Linked DNA regions of Homo sapiens: all the other regions are reported to be linked to region 3. Evidence: microRNA targets listed by miRTarBase, many of them from high-throughput screens and not tested one by one. Region 3 holds a microRNA gene; each other region holds the end of a gene's coding sequence.
The links. Region 3 holds the annotated microRNA hsa-miR-8057 (GUGGCUCUGUAGUAAGAUGGA, at 3,230-3,250, opposite strand). A microRNA usually pairs through its seed, bases 2 to 8, with sites in the 3' UTR of a target mRNA and lowers its output. Matches are read on the target gene's strand: a 7mer-m8 pairs with bases 2 to 8, a 7mer-A1 pairs with bases 2 to 7 and ends in A, and an 8mer does both.

Region 1: the mRNA of ANP32B is a reported target of hsa-miR-8057. Seed matches in the 3' UTR shown: 8mer at 4,425-4,432.
Region 2: miRTarBase lists ZNF502 as a target of hsa-miR-8057. Seed matches in the 3' UTR shown: 8mer at 1,004-1,011.
Region 4: the mRNA of ZNF786 is a reported target of hsa-miR-8057. Seed matches in the 3' UTR shown: 7mer-A1 at 2,808-2,814.

Annotation. Positions count from the first base shown.
Region 1 is chr9:98,013,491-98,019,988 of GRCh38, reverse strand. It overlaps ANP32B (acidic nuclear phosphoprotein 32 family member B), which reads right to left. Exons shown (of 7, transcript NM_006401.3): 7 at 4,046-4,625. The coding sequence ends at 4,558. Among named protein-coding and RNA genes, the nearest start is that of ANP32B, 33 kb to the right of the region's middle.
Region 2 is chr3:44,721,969-44,727,401 of GRCh38, forward strand. ZNF502 (zinc finger protein 502) reads left to right here. Exons shown (of 3, transcript NM_001134442.3): 3 at 1-1,863. The coding sequence ends at 484. LOC105377056 (a long non-coding RNA gene) reads right to left here. Exons shown (of 3, transcript XR_940788.4): 2 at 3,711-3,902. Among named protein-coding and RNA genes, the nearest start is that of ZNF501, 5.0 kb to the right of the region's middle.
Region 3 is chr18:26,588,276-26,594,773 of GRCh38, forward strand. MIR8057 (microRNA 8057) reads right to left here and starts at 3,260; the gene lies at 3,192-3,260. It also overlaps a transcript of KCTD1 not described here.
Region 4 is chr7:149,067,044-149,071,043 of GRCh38, forward strand. It overlaps ZNF786 (zinc finger protein 786), which reads right to left. Exons shown (of 4, transcript NM_152411.4): 4 at 2,598-4,000. The coding sequence ends at 3,380. Among named protein-coding and RNA genes, the nearest start is that of ZNF786, 22 kb to the right of the region's middle.

The DNA of each region.
Region 1 (6,498 bases), not on the chromosome of region 3:
CCAATGAGTCTTGTTAGCTAGTGTCTACTTTGCTCCCTGCTTTGGACTAAGGGAGAAATAAGTCCACTGACTTTCTCATCAGAACTGAGCCAGGAGCAAGGGCCCTAGGGAGGGATATATGGCAACATACAGCAGCTTTGGGTTTGGGCAGAGCTGGGTTTGGATCCCAGCCTGGTCATCATTACTAGCTACATGACATTGGATAGGGCACTTCACCTCTAAATCCTTCAGTTTCCACATCCATAAAAGGGGATTATAGGTTATTTTTCAGGGAAGTTGAAGACTAAATTCCTCTCAGTAAATGGCCATCAATGGCAGATGTATGTACTAACCTGCATCTGTAATGCTACTAGATGACTGACTAGTCTGGCCAACTTATGTATATACCTGTGGCAATTTCTGGAAGACACCTCCTTCACTGAAAGTGCAGCACTCATCTGGCCCCATGCTACTGGTCTATCCTTTTCAATTCCATCAGCCTAAACATAGCTCTGACATTTTCTACTAGCCCAAACCCTTACCTACTCCTTCAGAGGGTAACTGGGAGTAACGGCATGAAATACAATTAGTATTCCTATTGCTGGTTAGGCTCACGGTGAACCACATGCAGATTTGTACAGCTGAAACAACCTGCAGGCTCACTTAGCTTGGGCCTCGGAGTTTCAGTTGAGGAACTGGAGGCTCAGAGGGGAAGTGACAGAGGGGAGCAAATACCATTCAGTGGCCAGGTTGGGGCTAGAATATGATCTCTAGATTCTGTTTGAGGCCTCCCTCCCCATACCTCCACTCTTCCTCTGCCAGGGCTGGCGCTGGGGAGTGCTGTCTTAAACACAGAGACCCCAGGCCCCTCCTGGCCAGGGGTCAAGTCCCCTTAATCAGAAATAGAGTTAACTCTGGCCAGGTGCAGTGGCTCATGCCTGTAATCCCAGCACTTTGGGAGTTCAAGTCAGGAGGATCACTTGAGCCCAGGGGTTTGAAACCAGCCTGTGCAACATAGTGAGACCTCATCGCTACCAAAAATATTTAGCCAGGCATGGTGGCACGCACCTATAGTCCCAGTTACTCAGCTGAGGTGGGAGGATTGTTTGTGCCCAGGTCGAGCATGCAGTGAACCATGATTGTGCCAGTGTATTCCAGCTTGGGTGACAGAGTCAGACCGTCTCCAACAACAAAAAGCAATAGAATAAGGGTATTTTCTCCATATGCCCTCCCAACACCCCTGGGACAAGTTATAAAATACCCACTTGATCAGAGATTATTAAGCTGACCTAATTGGCTCTGAGGACTTCCACACTCACTGCAATCTTGGTGATTTTCCTGCAGAGCAACTGTTTGGCTGGCTGCAGCTTAAGTCTACTAGTAACTTGATTCCCTTTCCAAACTGTCAACACGGCGGTATCATCAGGCTCATTAAAATTGATGGCAGCACAATGCAACAGAGCTGGAGAAAACTGGAAGGTCATAGCATAGTGTACAACCACTTTGTGCTTCTGTCTCACCTTTCTCTGGCGATGGGGTAGGTAGTGTAGCCCAGATAGGAATGCCAGGAACAGGACGACTCAACTCTCCTGTATCTGTCCTGGAGTATGTACCAGGAGTCCTGGTGGTGGTGATACAGGAGCGGGTAGGGTGCAGTATCTTACACAAGGTGGTTTGTGCATTTCCACGCTGGCCACTATCATTCTTCAGGTGCTGGACTCCTGAAAGAGGAGTGAACTAAAGGTAAGAGCAGAGGTTGAAAACAGGGCGCCATGGACCGGGCACAGTGGCTCACACCTGTAATTCTGGCACTTTGGGAGGCCAAGGTGGGTGGATCACCTGAGGTCAGGAGAGTTCAAGACCAGCCTGACCAGTATGTTGAAACCTCGTCTCTACTAAAAATACAAAAATTAGCCAGGCGTGGTGGCGGGCGCCTGTAGTCCCAGCTACTCGGGAGGCTGAGACAGGAGAATTGCTTGAACCCAGGAGGCGGAGGTTGCAGTGAGCCAAGATTGTGCCACTACATGTCAGCCTGGGCGACAGCGAAGACTCCCATCTCAAAAAAAAAAAAAAAAGAAAAAAGAAAATAGCTTCAAAAAGATGGCATACCAATGTATCACACATGTAGGTGTGTATGTAGAACACACCTCCACCAACCTCGGAGCAGCTAGTCAGGACCAGTCATCTAGCCCATCATAGCTGCCACCCAGCTCAGACATTTTATAACTAAACTTACTGCAGAAGCTGGAAGCAAACCCTCTCAATGTTCTCCTTCAGATGGGAGACAACTCCAAAAATAGTCTGCTGTGTGACCTCATCACCAAACAGCTTGCTTCTCTGAGGACCATGTCAAAGGCATCTTCACTGGCCACATACAGGTGACATCAATATTTTACTATAATGCACAAAAAGGCTTTGACCTTCAAGGCCCCCTACAAGAGCCCAAATGACTTGTCCAGTATTATCATCTATTCATGTGTTGTCAAATCTACTTGTATCTAACTGTACTCAGCAGTTTCCTACCTTTAACCTCTGCTCACCAAGATACTCCCTTCTCTCTCTATTCCTATTTATAGACGCTATTCACACTTGCATGTGCAGCTGAAGTACTTTCTTTTCTAAGAAGCTTCCCTCCCTCCAGGTTGGGTGCCATCTCTCCAGCCTCTGAGCTACACTAAAACTTACCTAAACCTCTTGCTCCTAGGTCCTAGTAAATATTACTTGTGTTGATGTCTTTTCTTCCTGACTAGTTACTATGAGCACCAAGGGCTGGCTTGTCTTTTTAACCCAATTCCCTTCCCTTTTGCCCAGCCAATAAGCCTGGCATATCCTACAGGCTTGGTAGATACTGGGAAGTTCTGTAAACTTTAAAAAACAACTAAAAACAACAACAACAACAACAAACCGGGAAAAATAATCACTCAAAGTTACTGTGTTTGATATTTGACAAATAAGCAAAACCTTAAGGACACACTTAGGCTACAGAAGAAACCATTTTACAATGTATTGAAGGTTTGCCAAAATGGCCTTATGGTTGGGGAAAATGATGTGTAATACCTGTAAAATCAGAAATCAAATTTTCTTGGATTTTCTTTGCAAAAAAGAAACTCCATTTTAAAGTCTATGGGAGATTTTGATTTTAAAGTACAGTATTTGGGGGCTCCATAGAGACTGTGACTTGTTATAAATTCAAATTAGATTCCAATTTTACATATTGCATTTACATGCATCAAAAACCTCACTCATTCCAGCAGCTATAAGCTAAAATTTACTGAAACAATCCTTAAATCTTCCACTATAAAAAACTGTATTGATAATGCAGTCATACATCTATTTTCGCTAAACGGTTAATCACTGAATACAGACAGAATATCCTCCTTTCTCAAATCCCTTTAAGATCTGTAAGAATAGAGAAAATTTCCATCTTATGGAAAACCTGAGTTGACCTCAGGCAGTGCCTACCCACTGCTTGGTGAGGCTTTTCACATGTCATTCCCCCTTTTCACGCCTGTCTTGGCAACAAACCATACTGTGTTCACCCATCAGTCAAACCCTACATGCTTCAGACTAGTGGAAAGCCCATTTTTCTCTTCAGACCTTCCTGTCAGCAAGGGTCACAGAACATCAGTGCTACAAGTGACTTCAGAAGCCATTTGGTCACACCCCTTCAATTTTCCAGACTGGGTGGTGACCCAGAGTCAACACAAGGTCACACAGAAAATCAGTGGCAGAGCCAGAACTAGAATTCAGATCTCTTGGGATTCTGGTGAAGGCCTTTTGCTTTACACTATCTTCTTTCCCTTAATTCACATAATACTTGAACCTAACATTTTACTGGTTTTCAGGGCCCCAGAGTATTCCATTTTGAACGTTATTTTTTAAAGTATGCTTCATTTACTCCCAGTTATCAATGAGGATTTGATCTAAATGCTCAAAGATCCTACACACTTGTGCAATTCCCCTCAACAACTACTAATATAAAAATGCCAAATAAACCAGTTCTTTGGTGTTTTAACATGAGCTTACAATGAGAGTATAATTTAAAAATGTAAGCATACAACTAGGCTTTACCAAAGAGTAACTGTTTATTTCGCTTAAATTCTTAAAAATACTTTTTTGGCAGTTGTCACATAAAATGTCCTAATGTAAAAAAAATAATAATAATAATTAAAAAGCAAAGCATGAAAAAACAGACCCAAAATGTTAAGATTTTATTTACAAAGCTTTTTTGTTGTACAGAAAGTAAAAATGCTGTTACAATCTCAGTGTAACTGGTAGCCACAGACGGTTGACTCACCAATCACAGCTATCCACGCTACAGCAAGAATCTTACACAAAAACCTAACAACGCTTACAATTTTGTTGGGGTGAAGTCCACAAGCTTGGTGGTAGATTACCAAGAGGGACTACATGGAAGGAAGGCGGAATGTCACAGGAACTATTCTTTGGCTCTTTGGGTGGGTGGGTGTCCTGGGGTTTGTATCACAGCTACCTTTTTTTTTTTTTTAAACAGCTACAAAATCCATGAGCAGTCCAACCAATACTGAACAGTTCTGTTTCTGCAGGTCATCTGGGGTCTTAATCATCTTCTCCTTCATCATCTGTTTCTCTCTTCCTCTTTTCACCTTTCCCACCTTCTTCCTCCTCTGTACAGTAACAAAAATTGACTTTAGGACAGTGGAAAGGCATTTTGCTTAGATTATTGCCAATGGAGGCAACAACAACAAAGTTTTTGACAGTTAGGAGATAAAACAATGTAAACTTGATCAGATTAATATAGGTGACTAATAGCAAGTATAAGTGGTGACCACAGAACCAAGAAAAGCAAAATGCACAGCAGCACCTCAACTCACCCAGGAAAAGTTAATCCAGTTTCCTCGATTTTAAGGTGTTGTCTTCCAAATGTTTCTTTTTACAAATCTAGCAATTATTAAAGTGCTTATTATTAACCTGAGCTGGTCAGGCCCACTGGCTCATGCCTATAATCCCAGCACTTTGGGAGGCCAAGGCAGGCAGATCACCTGAGGTCAGGAGTTCCAGACCACCCTGGCCAACATGGTGAAACTCCGTCTCTACTAAAAATACAAAAATGAGCCAGGCATGGTGGCATGTACCTGTAATCCCAGCTACTCTGGATGATGAGGCATGAGAATTGCTTGAATCCGGAAGGCGGAGGTTGCAGTGAGCTGAGATTGTGCCACTGGACTCCAGCCTGGGTGATAAGAGCGAAACTGTCTCCAAAAAAACAAAACAAAACCCCTCGTGCTATCTAGCACGTCTTCAAGACATGCTTACTTTCAAGTGATCTCAGACAAGCTTAACCTCTTTAAGCCTTTTTCATCTGTAAAATGGGGACAATGGTACTGACTTTAAAAGGTTATTCTGAGAATTAAATAACACACAAAACATAGTATGGAACATCATTAAGACTCAAATTGTAGCAAACTAATATTAACTAAAAAGGAAATTCTTAAGAGTATTATGTAGTCGAGACACAGAGACTTACATATAGACCAATTTTTTCAACTAATAAAATCCATGGTTATTTTAATGAAATTAACTATATGTTAAATCATATTTCATACAGGTTGTTTTTTTTTTTGAGACAGACTCTGGCTCCGTCGCCCAGGCTGGAGTGCAGTGGCTTGATCTCGGCTCACTGCAAGCTCCGCCTCCCGGGTTCATGCCGTTCTCCTGACTCAGCCTCCCGAGTAGCTGGGACTACAGGCGCCTGCCACCACACCCGGCTAATTTTTTTGTATTTTTAGTAGAGACGGGGTTTCACCGTGTTAGCCAGGATGGTCTCGATCTCCTGACCTCATGATCCACCCGCCTCGGCCTCCCAATCATACAGGTTCTTAAAGGCAGTGACCAGGTCCTAACCAGGGTAATATCTAGTGTAAATGTAATTGAGAGCTTGACAAAGTGGATGCTGAGAAAACATCAGCCAACAGCACAGTGAACACCTGATTTTCTGAGACACAACCATGAGACTTTTTATTTGAGACAAGGTCTCCCTCTGTCACTCAGGCTGGAGTGCGGTGGCACTATCATAGCCTCACTGCAACTTCAAGCAGTCCTCCCACCTCAGCTTCCCAAGTAGCTGGGACTATAGGTGTGCACCACCATGTGCAGCTAACTTTTTTTTTTTTTTGAGACAGAGTCTTGCTCTGTTGTCCAGGCTGCAGTGCAGTGGCATGACCTCAGCTCACTGAATCTCTGCCTCCTGGGTTTGAGTGCGTGCCACCACGCCTGACTAATTTTTTAATTTTTAGTAGAGACAGGATTTTACCATGTTGGCCAGGCTGCTCTCGAACTCCTGACCTCAGGTGATCCACCTGCCTCGGCCTCCTAAAGTGCTGAGATAACAGGCGTGAGTCACCACACCCGGTCCCAGCTAACTTTTTAATTTTCTGTACAGACAGGGTCTATGTTGTCCAGGCTGGCATACTTTCAACAGTATTAAATAAGTAACAGCTATTTCATTTGTCTTGGTTGTAGTGGGGAAAGGACTAACAC
Region 2 (5,433 bases), not on the chromosome of region 3:
TGGCAAAGCGTTTACTCAGAGCACCCCACTCACTAAACATCAGAGAATACATACAGGGGAGAGACCCTACAAATGCAGTGAATGTGGTAAAGCCTTCATTCAGAGCATTTGCCTTATTCGGCACCAGAGAAGTCACACTGGAGAAAAACCCTATAAATGCAATGAATGTGGAAAGGGCTTTAATCAGAACACCTGCCTCACTCAGCATATGAGAATTCATACTGGAGAGAAGCCCTATAAATGTAAAGAATGTGGGAAAGCCTTTGCTCATAGCTCATCTCTTACTGAACATCATAGAACTCACACTGGTGAGAAGCTCTATAAATGTAGTGAGTGTGAGAAAACCTTCCGCAAGTATGCACACCTTAGTGAACATTACAGAATTCACACTGGTGAGAAGCCTTATGAGTGTATTGAGTGTGGAAAGTTCTTCAGACATAGTTCAGTCCTTTTCAGACATCAGAAACTTCACAGTGGTGACTAATGCTGCCATTTAGGTTATGACAGTTTCTCTAGCGAGGATGACTACGAATCTGACTGGGAGTAGAGGGGCAGGTAGAGTTCCTGGAGGGAAGGATGAAGGAGCCTTGGCTACTGTACTCTGAGAGGAATGTTTCCAGAAATGGAGGTGGGAGCTTAGGGAATGCAGAGCCTACTTGAGGTGGGCATCTGGGAATACAGGGTAGAAAGAAATTCCTGCTTTTCAGATAAAGCCTACACATTGCCACTGTCTCCCCATGTGACTCTTACAGCTTGAGGAGGCATTTGTTAGCACTTCTGTTCACTTTACTACATCCTGCCCCACATTCTGACTTGTCACCCATTTTCGTTGGCTGGCAGGTTGAGATGTTTTTCTTAAACACTGCCTGTCAGTGTGAAGTGGCACAGCTCTGATGTAGTGCTAAGTCTAGCCTCCAGATTTGAGGCAGCCCTGACCATGCTACCATGGGGGAGGCTCCCAACCTGTGGAAGTGGTCCTGTGAAAAGGAGACAGAAACAAGTAAGAGCCAAAAAAAAAAAAAAAAAAAATCCATATCCATTCATTAAAAAAATGAGATATAAAGCAACAACTGGGCTGACCTCTATAGATCTGCCAGTAAAGAAGGCTTTCTTTCATTATCAGGGTGAAGGTCTTTCCTGATTCTTCCAAGCTTTGAGGTGACTCAGAGCTAAGAATGAAATAGGAGACCAAGTTAGAATTCATGATACTGGTTTATGGGGAGGCAGTCATACCTGTTCAGAGAACCAGGAAGACTCAATATCTATCTCAGAGGAAATATGGTTACCCAGGAAAGAAATGGTCTGCTAGAGTGATAAGACTCAGAACAGGAAGCCTGCATGTGACTGAGCAAGTCACCTACATAACCCTGCCTGTACTAAGGTGTACACCTGTCTATTGTAAGTTTGCCTAGGCTGTTGGTGTACAGAGACCAGAGGAGAGAGACACACTAGGACTAACAATGTCCTAACAAAATGGTACTTAGTTTGTTGGTCTTTAGGAGAAAGCATTAGTAATGAAAGAAGAAAGAATTTTCACTTGGTTGGACATTGGGGCTCTTAAGAAAGTTGACATTTGTCGTGGAATGACTTTGGAAAGACTTCTAAAAGAATCTTTTTCAAATCCCTGAAAATCAGGATAGCACATTTTGCTACTGACTGTGACAGTGTTTTATTCTTTTGAGAGAAATGACATAGTTTTCCCTTTATTTCCCAAATTCCTTTCATGTTCTTAACTGCTACCCAGAAATTGAGCTTCAGAAGATTGAGGATAGCCTTTGATTGGTATTTAAAATAATTTCTAAGCTGTGAAGCTTATAGCATTTTTAAAGTATGGCTATTAAAAACACTAAGTTGATTCTGGAATGCTTGGTTATTTGGAACTCATCGTTTTTTTTTTTTGTTTTTGTTTTTTTTTTTTTTTTCTAGAGCAGTTGCCTTGTAGGGATAGGTTTGGGCCATGAATTACCATTAATGGGAGTATGGTATAAATATATATCTTTTTCACTTTCTATGAAGATTATGTTCTTAAAACCTACCACCAGTGAAGTCATAATTGAGAAAATTAATACACTATGGGTAAAAATAATGCTGTAAAACCTTTCTAAATATGTTTGTGAAAATATTATTTTACCAAAAGCAAAAATGTATTTATACCTCCTAGATAAAAACTGCATAATTAATTACTGGCACATAATACATGTTCAGTAAATATTTATTTCATGAGTTATATCAACTATTGCCCAACAGAACCTTTCTTGGAACTTCCTGATGAATAGTTATTTATAGCAATATTTGTACACCATCTTGAGAATTATGAGTGGAGATTAGAATAGGGAGAGTTTTCTTAAGAAAGAAACAAGAAAACTTTAAAGATATCTCAGGAGGCTGAGGCACAAGAATCACTTGAACCTGGGAGGTGGAGGCTGCAGCCAGCCGAGATTGTGCCTGTGCACTCCAGCCTGGGAGACAGAGTGAGACTTTTTCTAGAAAAAAAAAAAAAAATGATATCCATAAGTTCTTGTGGGAAAGATTTTCTCAAGTGAAACAGACTTGATCCTGAATTTTTCTCAGGCTGAGAAAATATGGCATGTTTTTACCTTCTGGGGAAACAGTTAAATAACTGTTCTTTCCACTACCCTGACCCCATATTCTTACACTTGGACTTATGTGCTCCCGATTTTCTCTCAGTTGCTGGCCCATGATGTACCTAGTCTCTCCAGCATGGCCCCAAACCTAGTCATTGCCCTCACCCTCAGTTTTCCCTCTTATTCAATCTTCATATCCATTCAACCACTATGTCCTGTTGAAGTTATCTCCTATCTCTGGAAGCCATCTCCACTGCAGTTATTGTAGTCCAGTCCCCTACTCCCTAATTTATTTTCTAGACTATTTTATTTTTAATTTTAATTTTTTTTTTTTGAGACAGGATCTCACTCTGTTGTCCAGGCTGGAATGCAATGGCATGGTCTCTGCTTACTGCAAACCCCCACCTCCCAGGCTCAAGCGATCCTCCCATTTCAGCCTCCCAAATAGCTGGGACTACAGGCATGTGCCACTATCCTTGGCTAATTTTTATATTTTTTTGTAGTGATGGGTTTCACCATGTTGCTCAGGCTGGTCTCGGACTCCTGGGCTCAAGCAATCTGCCTGCCTCAGCCACCCAAAGTGCTGGGATTATAGGCATAAGCCACTGTGCCTGGACTTCCTATTTTAAAATTTATCTACCAGTCTTCCAGTTTCTTGCCCCACTAGGCCATCTTTCACATTTCTTCTTGATCTTTATAAGCATAACTGGCTGCTTATTGTTTTCGGAATAAAGCACTAGTCCTTTAAAGAGGCAGGTGAGGCCCCTCATCTGACCCATGCCTGAATTGCCATCCTTAGCTGCCATTCCTTGCCTGGCATGTTCTATTCCATAGTTCAAATTCCTGTGATTCTGGAATATCACCTCTGGACTCTATTTTGGCACTTCCGCACATAGTGTTCCTATTGCCTCAGTTCCTTTTCCCTGCTTCTGCTTGCCTGCAAAACTCCCATTTTTCACTTACGAGTGTGCTCAGGCAATATCTCAAAGCTGTCTCTAACCTCATGTATTTTTTATTCTGTCTTGTATTTTTCATCATTTTATTATGTTACATTATAATGGTTTGTTCACACATCTTTCCCTTTGTCAGCTTTGCTAGGGAAGGAACAATGTGAAATTTCTTTACCTTTGTATCAACAGTGCCTGGTACTTAGGAGGTGCTCAATAAGCATTTGTTGAACTCAACTGAAGAGTCAGACATTTCTCTGTGCTAGTCTGCAGGTTGTGACTTAAGTCCCCAGTTGTCAGCAGGAAGGAGGCATGGTGAGTATGCGTGTCCACGAAGTGTCTGCCAGGAGCAACAGTTCTGAAACTTTCCCTAAGATTGTATTAAACAGAAGATCCCATAAGAAACAATATTTTTCAATTAGAGATTTAAAAGTCCTATCACAATTTAACTAAACGCTTTCAATTATATTGATGTCAGGGTCAACAGGAGGAAAATGCATGCAACTGCAGAAACACACCTGTGTCAACTGGAATACCTATGAAATAGCAGGAACTGAAGAGTAATGCTGGCCTAGCAGGAGGGCATTTGCAGTTTACAAATCCCAAACTGGGCCAGGCATGGTGGCTTGCACCTGTAATCCCAACTACTCAGGAGTCTGAGGTGGGAGGATTGATTCAGGCCAGGAGTTCAAGAGCATCCTGTGGAACATAACAAGACCTTGTCTAAAAAAAATAAATAAATAAATAAATAAATAAATAAATAAACCAGGTATGGTGGTGCATGCCTGTAGTCCTAGCTATTCTGGATGCTGAGCCTGAGGTGGAAGGATCGCTTGAGCCCAGGTGTTGGGAGCTGCAGTGAGCTAGCATCATGCCACTGCACTCTAGCCTGCGTATCAGAGAGTGAGACCCTCTCTCTTAAAAAAAAAAAAAAAAAAAAAAAAAAAAAAAAAAAAAGTACCAAAGTGGAAGCACTTCCTGAGATTTTGGGCCCTGGGATGATAAAGAATTTGAGTGTCTTGCTTATTGTGCACTGAAATTTAATTCATGACTTTAGAAGGACACAGATGGAGCCACGTCAGATCCTCAGAACAAAAGAGAAAAGATGTTGGGGTTGCTCAAGACCACACAACCAGTGTCAGATGAGGTTTAAACTGCAGTGTCCTTGCATTTCATTTACTTTTCCCTGTATTGGTCATACCTCTATTCCATATGCCTCTTTATTTTTTATAGAACTGACTACTTTTTTTTGTTTCTGAGATGGTTTCGGTCTGTTGCCCAGGCTGGAGTGCAGTAGCGTGATCCTAGCTCACTGTAGCCTAGACCTCCCAGGCTCAAGCGATTCTCTCACCTCAGCCTCCCAAGCAGTTGGGACTACAGGCGTGAGCTACCATGCCTGGCTAATTTTTAAAAAGTATTCTCTGGCCGGGTGCGGTGGCTCACGCCTGTAATCCCAGCACTTTGGGAGGCCAAGGCAGGCGGATCACAAGGTCAGGAGTTTGAGACCAGCCTGACCAACATGGTGAAACCCCGTCTCTACTAAAAATATGAAAATTAGCCAGGCATGGTGGCGCGTGCCTGTAATCCCAGCTACTAAGGAGACTGAGGCAGGAGAATTGCTTGAACCCAGGAGGCAGAGGTTGCAGTGAGCCAAGATCATGCCACTGCACTCCAGCCTGGGTGACAGAGTGAGAGTCTGTCTCAAAAAAAAGTTTTTTAATATTATTTTTTGGTACAGACAGATTCTTGCTATGTTACCCAGGCTCATCTCTAACTCCTGCCCTCAGATGATCCTCCTAACTCGGACTCCCTTACAGGCCTGAGCCACTGCATCCAGCCTAGAATTGACCACTTAGTGCTCCAATCTTTTCCTTATCCTGAGGATGTGAGGAGCTCACTTG
Region 3 (6,498 bases):
AGAAAAGAAAGAAAGAGGGAAAGGAAGGGAAGGGAAGGGAAGGGAAGGGAAAGGGAGGGGAGGGGAGTGGAGGGGAGTGAAAACAGTTTTGACTCACAGACTCCCTGGATAGTTTTTTAGGAACCCCCGGGGTCCCTGGACCACACAGTGAGAACTTCTGGAATACAGATCAGCTGAAAATAATTTGTACTCTGTGGAAAATAGAGTTTGAATGCAGGGGTTTATCAATAAGTATGGAATAGTGACAATTCTGCAGAGTAATGAAGAGTTGGGCACAGCTTTGAAGGGTGACAATTGCCTAGGGAGCAGTTGACATTAGAAACAAGGTAGCTGGTGTGTGTGACACCTGTCATCAGGGGCCCAGAAAGCATTTCTTGGAGGCTGGGCTGTCAAAGAAGCACAGTACAGAGAAGGAGGCGCCAACTTGGGAGGGACTTCAGGCCATTTGGAGTTTGCATGAGATAGGAGACAGTTTGCAAAGCAGAGAGAGGTTCTGGAAGGTTCCTGATACCCCACTGGAGACATCATCCAATCCATTGCTTTTCACACTTTCCACAAGGAGCAGAACTCCTTTTTCACAAGAATCGAATGCAAAGCCCTAATATATACAGTATAGAGCAGTGTGTTGCTTTGGATGAAATATGGAAGAGGTCCATGCGGCTTGGCTTACTTAAGCATGAACTCAGATCCCTAGGCTCCCAGGAAGAGTGGAGGAAACCCACTGATCTAACTGCAAACAATCAGCAGAGCAGGGATAAATACTCTCTAAGGATCCCTCTCCTAGGCATATGTGTAGGGGGAATGGAGGATATGAAGGGAGATACCTGCATGAGGCGACCTCATAATTAAAGGCTCTGTCTAGACCTGTGGCTGTGGGATAAGACCTGGGGGAGGACAGGATGGTAACGTGAATGTGAGTGAGGGCAACAGAGAGACAAGACTCGGGCCTGTGGCTCAGATTTTCAGTCTTGGACCTTGGGTTGGCCACTGGCCACAGGAGGACATTTAGAAAGAGTGAAGAATGAATAACAACATTAACTGAGCATTTATTATATGCAAGCCATTCAGTTAAGCACTTTCCACGAATGGTCTTGTTTCATCCTCATGAAACCTCTATGGGATTTTATGACTTTCCACATTTTATGGAAACAGAATTCAAGAAATTAAGTAACTGGAGCAAAGGGGCATAGGTCTCAGTGGTGGGCCAGGCTATCTGAAATTCTCAGTGTAAAGCCAGTTATATAAAGTCTTTCAGACTTTAAATAAACTTGAAAAGGGTTATCAAAGACATCACAACAATGCTTTCAAAGTATCTTGGCTACTGTGGTAGTTACTATCAATGGCCTAGCCGTTGGCCACTCTCCTTTCTTTCTTGCTAACAGAACCCCATTTTTATTCAGATATCTGGTGGCTGTGTGCATCAAGGAAGGTTAGACCCCTCCCTAGCCCCAGTGGGTCAACCTTGACTGGTATAAGCACAGCATGGTGATTCCATCCCCTGCCAGAAATGAGCACACAAGGCAATTCTGGCCAGTGAGAGAGAAAGGGAAGTTTACTGGGAGACTACTATTATATGTGTCTGCTGATAAAGGGATGCATGGGAAGAAACAGCATCTTCTCTGACTTCATGAAGTCATAACTACATGTGATACCCAGATTATTGGCAGCCACCTTGTGAGCACAAGGGGAGTCGATCTGAGAAGGCAGAACTGAAAGGAGGTAATGCTTCTGTTGTTAAGTTGCCAAATTAGTGAATCCTGGAACAGCCCTATCTCTGTACTTCATAAGTGAATGCGTTATTTTATTTTATTTTATTTATTTTATTTTTGAGACAGTCTTACTGTGTCGCCCAGGCTGGAGTGCAGTGGCATGATCTCAGCTCACTGCAACCTCTGCCTCCTGGGTTCAAGCAGTTCTCCTGCCTCAGCTTCCTGAGTAGCTGGGGTTACAGGCACATGGCACCACACCTGGCTCATTTTTTTTTTTTCACTTTAGTAGAGATGGGGTTTCACCGTGTTGGCCAAGCTGGTCTCAAACTCCTGATCTCAAATGATCTGCCTGCCTTGGCTACCCAAAATGCTGGGATTACAGGCATGAGCCACCGTGCCCGGCTGTGAATGCATTTTGCTCATTTATTAGAAATGTATTAGACCATTTCTGAGTCTGTTATTATTAGTGGCCCAAAGCATCCTAAGCAAATTGTGACTTATATTGCCCTATCTATTTAGAAAGGTCGCTGATCAAGCGATACCTTAAAACGTATGGTTGTTTTGTTTTAGCAAGGCTTCTCTTAGAAAATATAAACTTAACCAGGCCTTCTTTTCTGCTTGTGTGGTACAGTTTTACCTGCTGAAAAATGAATAGCTATTTGCACAGCAATGTTAAAAGGTTACATGATGCAACTGCAAATATTCACTTATTTAGGCTATTGTTTACGTTCCATTATGGATGAAAACTGCCTATATGCATTTTTGGTATTTCTAACTCCAGAAATCTGGATGTATTATACACATGAAGTATCACATTTTATCTTGTGTTCAAGAGATTCTGGCTAGGTCCTACATGGTATCTCTTACAGGGACTAATTTTAAATAAAAACTAATAATTTTTTTCTAAAGGTTTCCATGCCTAATAGTCCTGATGGTGAACCCCAAATCATTGCTGCTTGTTTGACACACCAGGAATGCTTATTACTTATTATATACACTAAGGAGAATATGAAGATCAGTGGTTCAGATTAGATAATGTATATGAAAATCACTGAATTTTTTTTTCAATTGAGTCAGGGTCTTGCTCTGTTGCTCAGGCTGGAGTGCAGTGGTGCAATTATAGCTTGAACTCCTGGCCTCAAGCCATCCTCCTGCCTCAGCCTCCCATGCAGCTGAAACTACAAGTACATACCACTACACCAGCTAATTATTATTATTTTTTCCATAGAGACAGGGTCTCACCTTGTTGTCCAGGCTGGTCTCAAACTCCTGGCTCCAAGCAGTCCTCCTGCCTTGGCCTACCAAAGCGTTGGGATTACAGGCATGTGCCACCATGCAGGGCCTGAAAATACTTTAAATAACTAAATTATTTTCAATCTCCTTTACTCATCTTTTAAGGATAATTTCATCCTTTCAGGAAGGGTTACTGAGATACAAGATAAAGCATGTTGCTCAAGGTCTCCCGACTACTACTACTACTAATAATTTAAAAAGGCCCTGAGCTGGGATTGAACCGCAAGTCCATCTTACTACAGAGCCACATCCCAAATTCTTTTCAAGGTGCAGGGATTTCCCCAAGGCCTTCACCATGGCCACCTTCCTGCAGAAATTGCAATACGTACTAAACTGCTCAAAAGGTGTGCAAAAGGAGAGGGTGGAAGCAACAGACCTCCATACTGTACATACACAGAGTAAGCTGTACAAATTTTCTAGTTACCCTTAAGTCCTGCCTAAGGCAATCAAATAAACAATCTTGGGACACTAAATTATCTAATTCGAACCACCGAACTTTATATTCCTCTTGGTGTATATAATAAATAAATTAGCACTCCTGGTGTGTCAAACAAACCAGCCATGATTTGGAGTTTACCATCAGGACTGTTAGACATGGAAGCATTTTTAAAAAATCAGTTTTTGTGTAAAATTAGTCCCTGTAAGAGATACAATGTGGGACCTAGCCAGAATCTATTGAACACATGATACAATACTATTTTTAACATTAGAGCATAAATCATGCACTGTCTAGTTACTGTGTAAGTAACTACAACTACTAGTTACTTTGTTAGTCTAGTAACAACTTCTGACACCTGGGCATATTCATGAAAGTCTTTACCATGTGTAATAAAGGCTCATACAGAGCTTCGTCACTACAAATTATGAGAATTAAGGTCTCAGTTCCCATCTCTTAAGAGTAGAATTGTCTAATTCTTAAAACCATACTTGAAAAAAATCCCTTATGATACAAAAAGTTAGAAACAGTTTTTTTCTTTACCAGAAAAATAATTTAAATAATCTTTCAAATTATGTAGTTCTTCTGCAGTGAAGTGTAAGAAGATGACAGTGAAATGGCAACATATGCTTTGCTGAGAAAATCAGGAAAAAGAGGAAAAACTCAGAATTCTGCAGTCGCTTTGGGATTGTTCATTTACAATAGTTCCATGGCTACCATCACCAAGCTGTGGGGTCTGTGCCCATCATTCCATGTCCTCCAATCTCTAGTTCTCCCCACAGCATCTGTTCAGGGGTTTCTACCTTGCATGCATACTCACCTCTATTCAGCCCCGCCTAGTAAACCATCACAGTCGATGCTGATGGCCCATCCAACATGAGCCCTATATGTTCTTGCCCTTCTCTACTCCAAAGATCTTGACTTCCATCCAGTTCAGCAACCCACCCCCATGACCACATCCTTGACTTTGTCTTCAGTGGGAAGTGCTCCAGCTCTGAAAACTTAAGCATTATAATCCCCTTTGCTCTGTAACCTTCCATTTTCTACCTTTCTTATGTCCCTGGAAGCAGCTAATCTAATGGGGAAATGGGGGCAAGTTTTAGAAGCAGAGATCTGGGTTTAAAAGTTGGCTCTGCCACTTGCTGGCTGTGTGACCTCAGGTAAATTATATTTCTGAGCCTTATATTCTTTGTCTGTGACATAGTATTTTGCAGGATTGTAAGGTGGGCTGCATATGACTGAAAGCACCTAGCAACACAGCTGATGCTCAGTGAAGCTAATTTCTCCCCTTCCCTCCCGCTTCCTCACACCTATTAACTTTATTGTTCAATCTCACAGAGAATGCTGGTCTCTCCAGTCTCTCGTCCCCCTCTGGGCTTCAAGGTCAGTCATTTCATTTCTCTGATGTTCCACCACATGGCTCAGGTTAACACCAAGCTTGGGACAATGCACCACTTCCATGCTTCACTCTTGCTCTTGGACTGCCCAGAACATTTAGCTTGGCCAGGGAGGCCCTGCACATTTCTGTTTCTGAAGCTTCTCATAAGGGAGGAGGAGGAGGAAGACAAGGAGGAGGAGGAGCAATATGAGGAGAAGGAAGAGGAGGAGGAAGAGGAGGAGGAAGAGGAGGAAGAGGAGGAGGAGGAAGAGGAGGAGGAGGAAGAGGAGGAGGAAGAAGAGGAGGAGGAAGATGAGGAGGAGAAGGAAGAAGATGAGGAGGAGGAGGAAGACAAGGAGGATGAGGAGGAAGACAAGGAGAAGGAGGAGGAAGAAGACAAGGAGGAGGAGGAAGATGAGGAGGAGGAAGAAGACAAGGAGAAGGAGGAGGAAGAAGACGAGGAGGAGGAGGAGGAGGAAGACAAGGAGCAGGAGGAGAAGGACAAGGAGGGAGAAGGAAGACAAGGAGGAGGAGGAAGATGAGGAGGAAGAGAAGGAAGAGGAGGAAGAGGAGGAGGAGGAAGATGAGGAGGAGGAGGAAGAAGATAAGCAGGAGGAGGAAGATAAGGAGGAGGAGAAAGATGAGGAGGAGGAAGACAAGGGGCAGGAGGAGAAGGACAAGGAGGGAGGAGGAAGATAAGGAGGAGGAGGAAGACAAGGAGCAGGAGGAGAAGGACAAGGAGGGAGGAGGAAGACAAGGAGGAAGAGGAGAACAAGGAGGAAGAGGAAGATAAGGAGGAGGAGGAGGAAGATGAGGAGGACGAGGAGGAAGATGAGGAGGAGAAAGAAGAGAAGGGGGGGAGAAGCAGTCAAAACAGGATTATAAAAAGAGTGGAATATTTTATGTTTAGAGGAAATACCCCAACCCCATCCTTGATGCCTTCACTTATGTGGAAGAAGAAATCACATTAGCATAACAAGTGGCATGATTTACCATCTTGTTGAGCTTGAAGGAGCTGGGCTTGGACAGCTCCTCTTCTGCTCTCCAGGCATTTCTCTGTGATCTTCTACTCCATGGTCTAGAAGGGTTGCTCCTTCCTCCTCCTGCTAGGGAAGGCTTAGGTCAAGAGCTGCCAGTGACTGGGAGGGGAAGTTAGCCTAAATCAGTAGAGTATTAGGAAGATCACTTGTCTGCAAATGTATGCTGCATTCTCTAAAATAAGCTTATTTAGTAATATAGGTAAACTTTTGGCATTTGTGTACAGACTTATTTCTTAATTGATGTCTAGAAGTCAGGTGGAGGAGAGAAGTGATTTTTGTTGGGTCTCCTTAAAATCCTAAAGTTTATATTTAACAAATTAAGTCTTTTAAAGTTAAGAATATAGTGCACATATAATTGTGCTGTTCCTATGACAGAGAAATTAAGACAAAAATCACAGTAAACCCTAGGTGAGGGGATCCAGGTAACTGCAGCACAAATGCGTTGCAATCAGAGAGTATCTGCTCCTTTCAAGCCTGTTACTGGATCTGCAGGCCCTGGTGATGGCTAACTTTATGTCAACTCAGCTAGGCTGCGGTGCCCAAATGTCTGGTCAACCAACAGTCTAGACGCTGCTGAGAAGATATTTTGGAATGAGATTAACATTTAAATCAGTGGAGCAGATTACCCCCCATCATGTGAGT
Region 4 (4,000 bases), not on the chromosome of region 3:
TTCTGCTTTTCCCAAGCTTTTTCTGTCCATAAAACCAACCGCGGGCCGGGTGCAGTGGCTCACACCTATAATCCCAGCACTTTGGGAGGCCAAGGTGGGCAGATCACGAGATCAGGAGTTCGAGACCAGCCTGGCCATCCTGGTGAAACCCCCGTCTCTACTAAAAATACAAAAAATTAGCCAGGCATGGTGGCGCATACCTGTAATCCCAGCTACTTGGGAGGCTGAGGCAGAATTGCTTGAACCCAGGAGGTGGAGGTTGCAGTGAGCCAAGATAGCGCCACTGCTCTCCAGCCTGGGCGACAGAGGGAGACTCCTTCTTAAAAAAAAAAAAAAAAACCCGCCTTGGCTGGCTCATCCAAACACTTATTCTGTTTTTCTGTTTTTGTTTTTGAGACCGAGTTTCGCTCGTTGCCCAGGCTGGAGTGCAATGGCACGATCTCGGCTCACTGCAACCTCCGCCTCCCGGGTTCAAGCGATTCTCCCGCCTCAGCCTCCCGAGTAGCTGGAATTACAGGTTCGCATTGCCACACCCACCTAATTTTTTGTATTTTTAGTACAGACAGGGTTTCACCATGGCCAGGCTGGTCTTGAACTTCTGACCTCAGGTGATCTGCCCGCCTCGGCCTCTCAGAGTGCTGGGATTACAGGCGTGAGCCACCACGCCGGGCCACTTATTCTGTTTCATGGGATGAAGTGTTGCTCAATTCTAGAATACCAAATAAGCCAATTAAGATTTTTAAACTAAATGTGTTGTAATTTTGTCTTTTGACAGTGCCATTGTACAGGTGATTCACTACTCCACCACTCCACTCACCTACTCACAATGACGGTTTTCAACATTTCAGGAACGGTTTCTACCTTAGGCTCAGAGCAATTCCTACTTCTCCCTCATGAGGAATTGGAGGAGGTGGTGATAAAATTCTTCATCTGGTTGTGAGGTGGTATTTCACACAACTCCTTGATAAATATTGGAGGTGATACTGGATACAGGAAAACTTACAATAATCAGATTGTTACAGGTAGTTAGGCATCAACAGGGCAGCAGAGGGCTCTCTCCCGACCCACTAGAAATGTCAGGTGATGGTTCAGCAATTAACAAATTGCCTCTCTAAGAATGAGAATTCGGCAGCCAGGGAGAGACAATCTCTTGATGGTCCACACCTGTTAACATTAAAAGTGTTAATTGAATACAGCCCCCCAAGCAGCAGCTTCTTGGGCACCCGTGTTAAGAGACAAATGGCGAAGTATAGGCCGGGCACGGTGGCTCACACCTATAATCCCAGCACTTTGGGAGGCTGAGGTGGGTAGATCACCTGAGGTCAGGAGTTCAAGACCAGCCTGGCCCACATTTTATATTTTTTGTATTTTTAGTCTCTACTAAAAATACAAAAATAGGCATGGTGGCACGTGATGGCGTGCGCCTTTAGTCCCAGCTACTCAGGAGGTTGAGAAAGAAGGATCACTTGAGCTTGGGAGGTGGAGGATACAGCGAGCTAAGATCATGGCACTGTACTCCAGGCTGGCTGACAGAGACTCCAAAAAAAAAAAAAAAAAGAAAAGAAAGGCCGGCACCGTGGCTCATGCCTGTAATCCCAGCACTTTGGGAGGCTGAGGCGGGCGGATCACGAGGTCAAGAGATCGAGACCATCCTGGCTAACACGGTGAAACTCTGTCTCTACTAAAAATACAAAAAATTAGCTGGGCGTGGTGGCGGGCGCCTGTGGTCCCAGCTACTTGGGAGCCTGAGGCAGGAGAATGGCATGAACCCGGAAGGTGGAGCTTGCGGTGAGCCGAGATCATGCCACTGCACCCCAGCCTGGGCGACAGAGCAAGACTCCATCTCAAAGAAAAAAAAAAAGGAATTTATAATTATATATTATTCTGTATCTTTATATATTAATTATATATTCTATAATTTTTTTGAGATGGAGTCTTGCTCTGTCTCCCAAGTTGGAATGCAGTGGTGCAATCCCAGCTCAATGCAACCTCCACCTCTGGGGTTCAAGCGATTCTCCTGCCTCAGCCTCCGGCGTAGCCAAGACTACAGGTGCATGCCACCATGCCCGGCTAATTTTTGTACTTTTTGGTAGAGATGGTGTTTCACCATGTTGGCCAGTCTGGTCTTGAACTCCTGACCTCAAGTGATCCTCCTGCCTTGACCTCCCAAAGTAATGGGATTATAGGTATGAGCCACCACGCCAGGCTATATTCTATAAATTCTAAAGAGAATGAAAAGGACTTGCCAAGCTTCCTTTGGGAGATACTAAATTTGTTTTTTTTTTTTTTTTGAGACGGAGTCTCGCTCTGTCACCCAGGCTGGAGTGCAGTGGCTTGATCTTGGCTCACTGCAAGCTCCGCCTCCTGGGCTCACACCATTCTCCTGCCTCAGCCTCCTGGGACTACAGGTGCCTGCCACCACACCCGGCTAATTTTTTTTTTTTTTTTGTATTTTTAGTAGAGACAGGGTTTCACTGTGTTTGCCAGGATGGTCTCGATCTCCTGACCTTGTGATCCACCCGCCTCAGCCTCCCAAAGTGCTGGGATTACAGGCGTGAGCCACCACCCCTGGCCCAAATTTTTTTTTTTTTTTTTTTGAGACAGTGTCATACTATGTCATCCATACTGGAGTGCAGTGGCACCATCATTGCTCACTGCAGCCTTGACCTCCCTGGGCTCAGGCGATCCTCCCACCTCAGCTTCAGGAGTAGCTGGGACTACTGGTGTGTACCACCATGCCTGGCTAATTTTTGTATTTTTAGTAGAGACAGGGTTTTGCCATGTTGCCCAAGCTGGTCTCAAACTCCTTGGCTCGTGATCCTCCTGCCACGGCCTCCCAAGTGCTGGGATTACAGGCATGAACCACTGTGCCTGGCCTAAATTTACTTTTATAACAATTACTTTTTAAAATGTCAGAACTTCCTTATAATTACACACATATATTTTTATACAAATGCACAAAGGTAATCACATCTTATCTGGATTTCTGTGTGCACCTTTTCTTAAAAATGTTAACAATCACATATAACCTCGTAGAAATTGTTTTCGTTTGCAGATGCCTCCTTTTTCATAAAATTATGTCCTTGTTTTATAATGCTGTCTTTTCCAATATAGCTGGGATCACGCCACTGCACTCCAGCCTGGGTGACAGAGCAAAACTCCATCTTGGAAAAAAAAAAAAAAAAGAAAGAAATATAATTGGTGATGCTTCTGAAGAGAAAATCCTTTGTGGTTCTTCATATTCCTAACTTGCATGACACTCTTGCTCAAAGAAGGATACCTGCTCCTAAAACCCGTCTACCAGCGGGTCTGGCTACTGTTGCTGTGGATTCCTGGGCAATACCAATCCTGCTCAACGCTTTGGATGTCCCACTCTGCCTCAACTCCAATCGGCCTCTATCATTGCAAACAGTTGGCTGAGCCTTTTCTTAATGTCCAGTTCATTTGGAGCAGGACAGGATTTTGTGTGTACTCTGATGTGCTCCGCAAGCTTAGACTTGTAAATGAAGCCCTTCCCACAATCGCCACAGGCAAAGGGCCTCTCGGGCCTGTGGATGCGCTGGTGCCTCAGCATGTGTCCCCTTTCCCGGAAGTTCTTGTCACACTCAGGGCAGTGAAAAGGCCTCTCCCCTGTGTGCAGGCCCTGATGGCTGAGCAGCTGCGCCTTCAGGCGGAAACTCTTGTCACACTTGGGACACTGAAAAGGCTTCTCTCCCGTGTGCGTTCTGATGTGCTCGATGAGCTTTGAGTGTTTCACAAAGCCCTTGCCGCACTCACAGGAGAAAGGCATCTCCCCGCTGTGCAGCAGCTGGTGGGCCTTCATGTCGGCCTTCACGCGATAGCGCTTGTCGCACTCCGGACACTGGAAGGGCCTCTCTCCCGTGTGCAGGCGCTGATGGCTGAGCAGCTGCCCCTTCAGGCGGAAGCTCCTGTTGCACTCTGGGCACTGGAAGGGTCTCTCCCCGCTGTGCACGCGCAAGTGCTCCGTGAGCTTGGATTG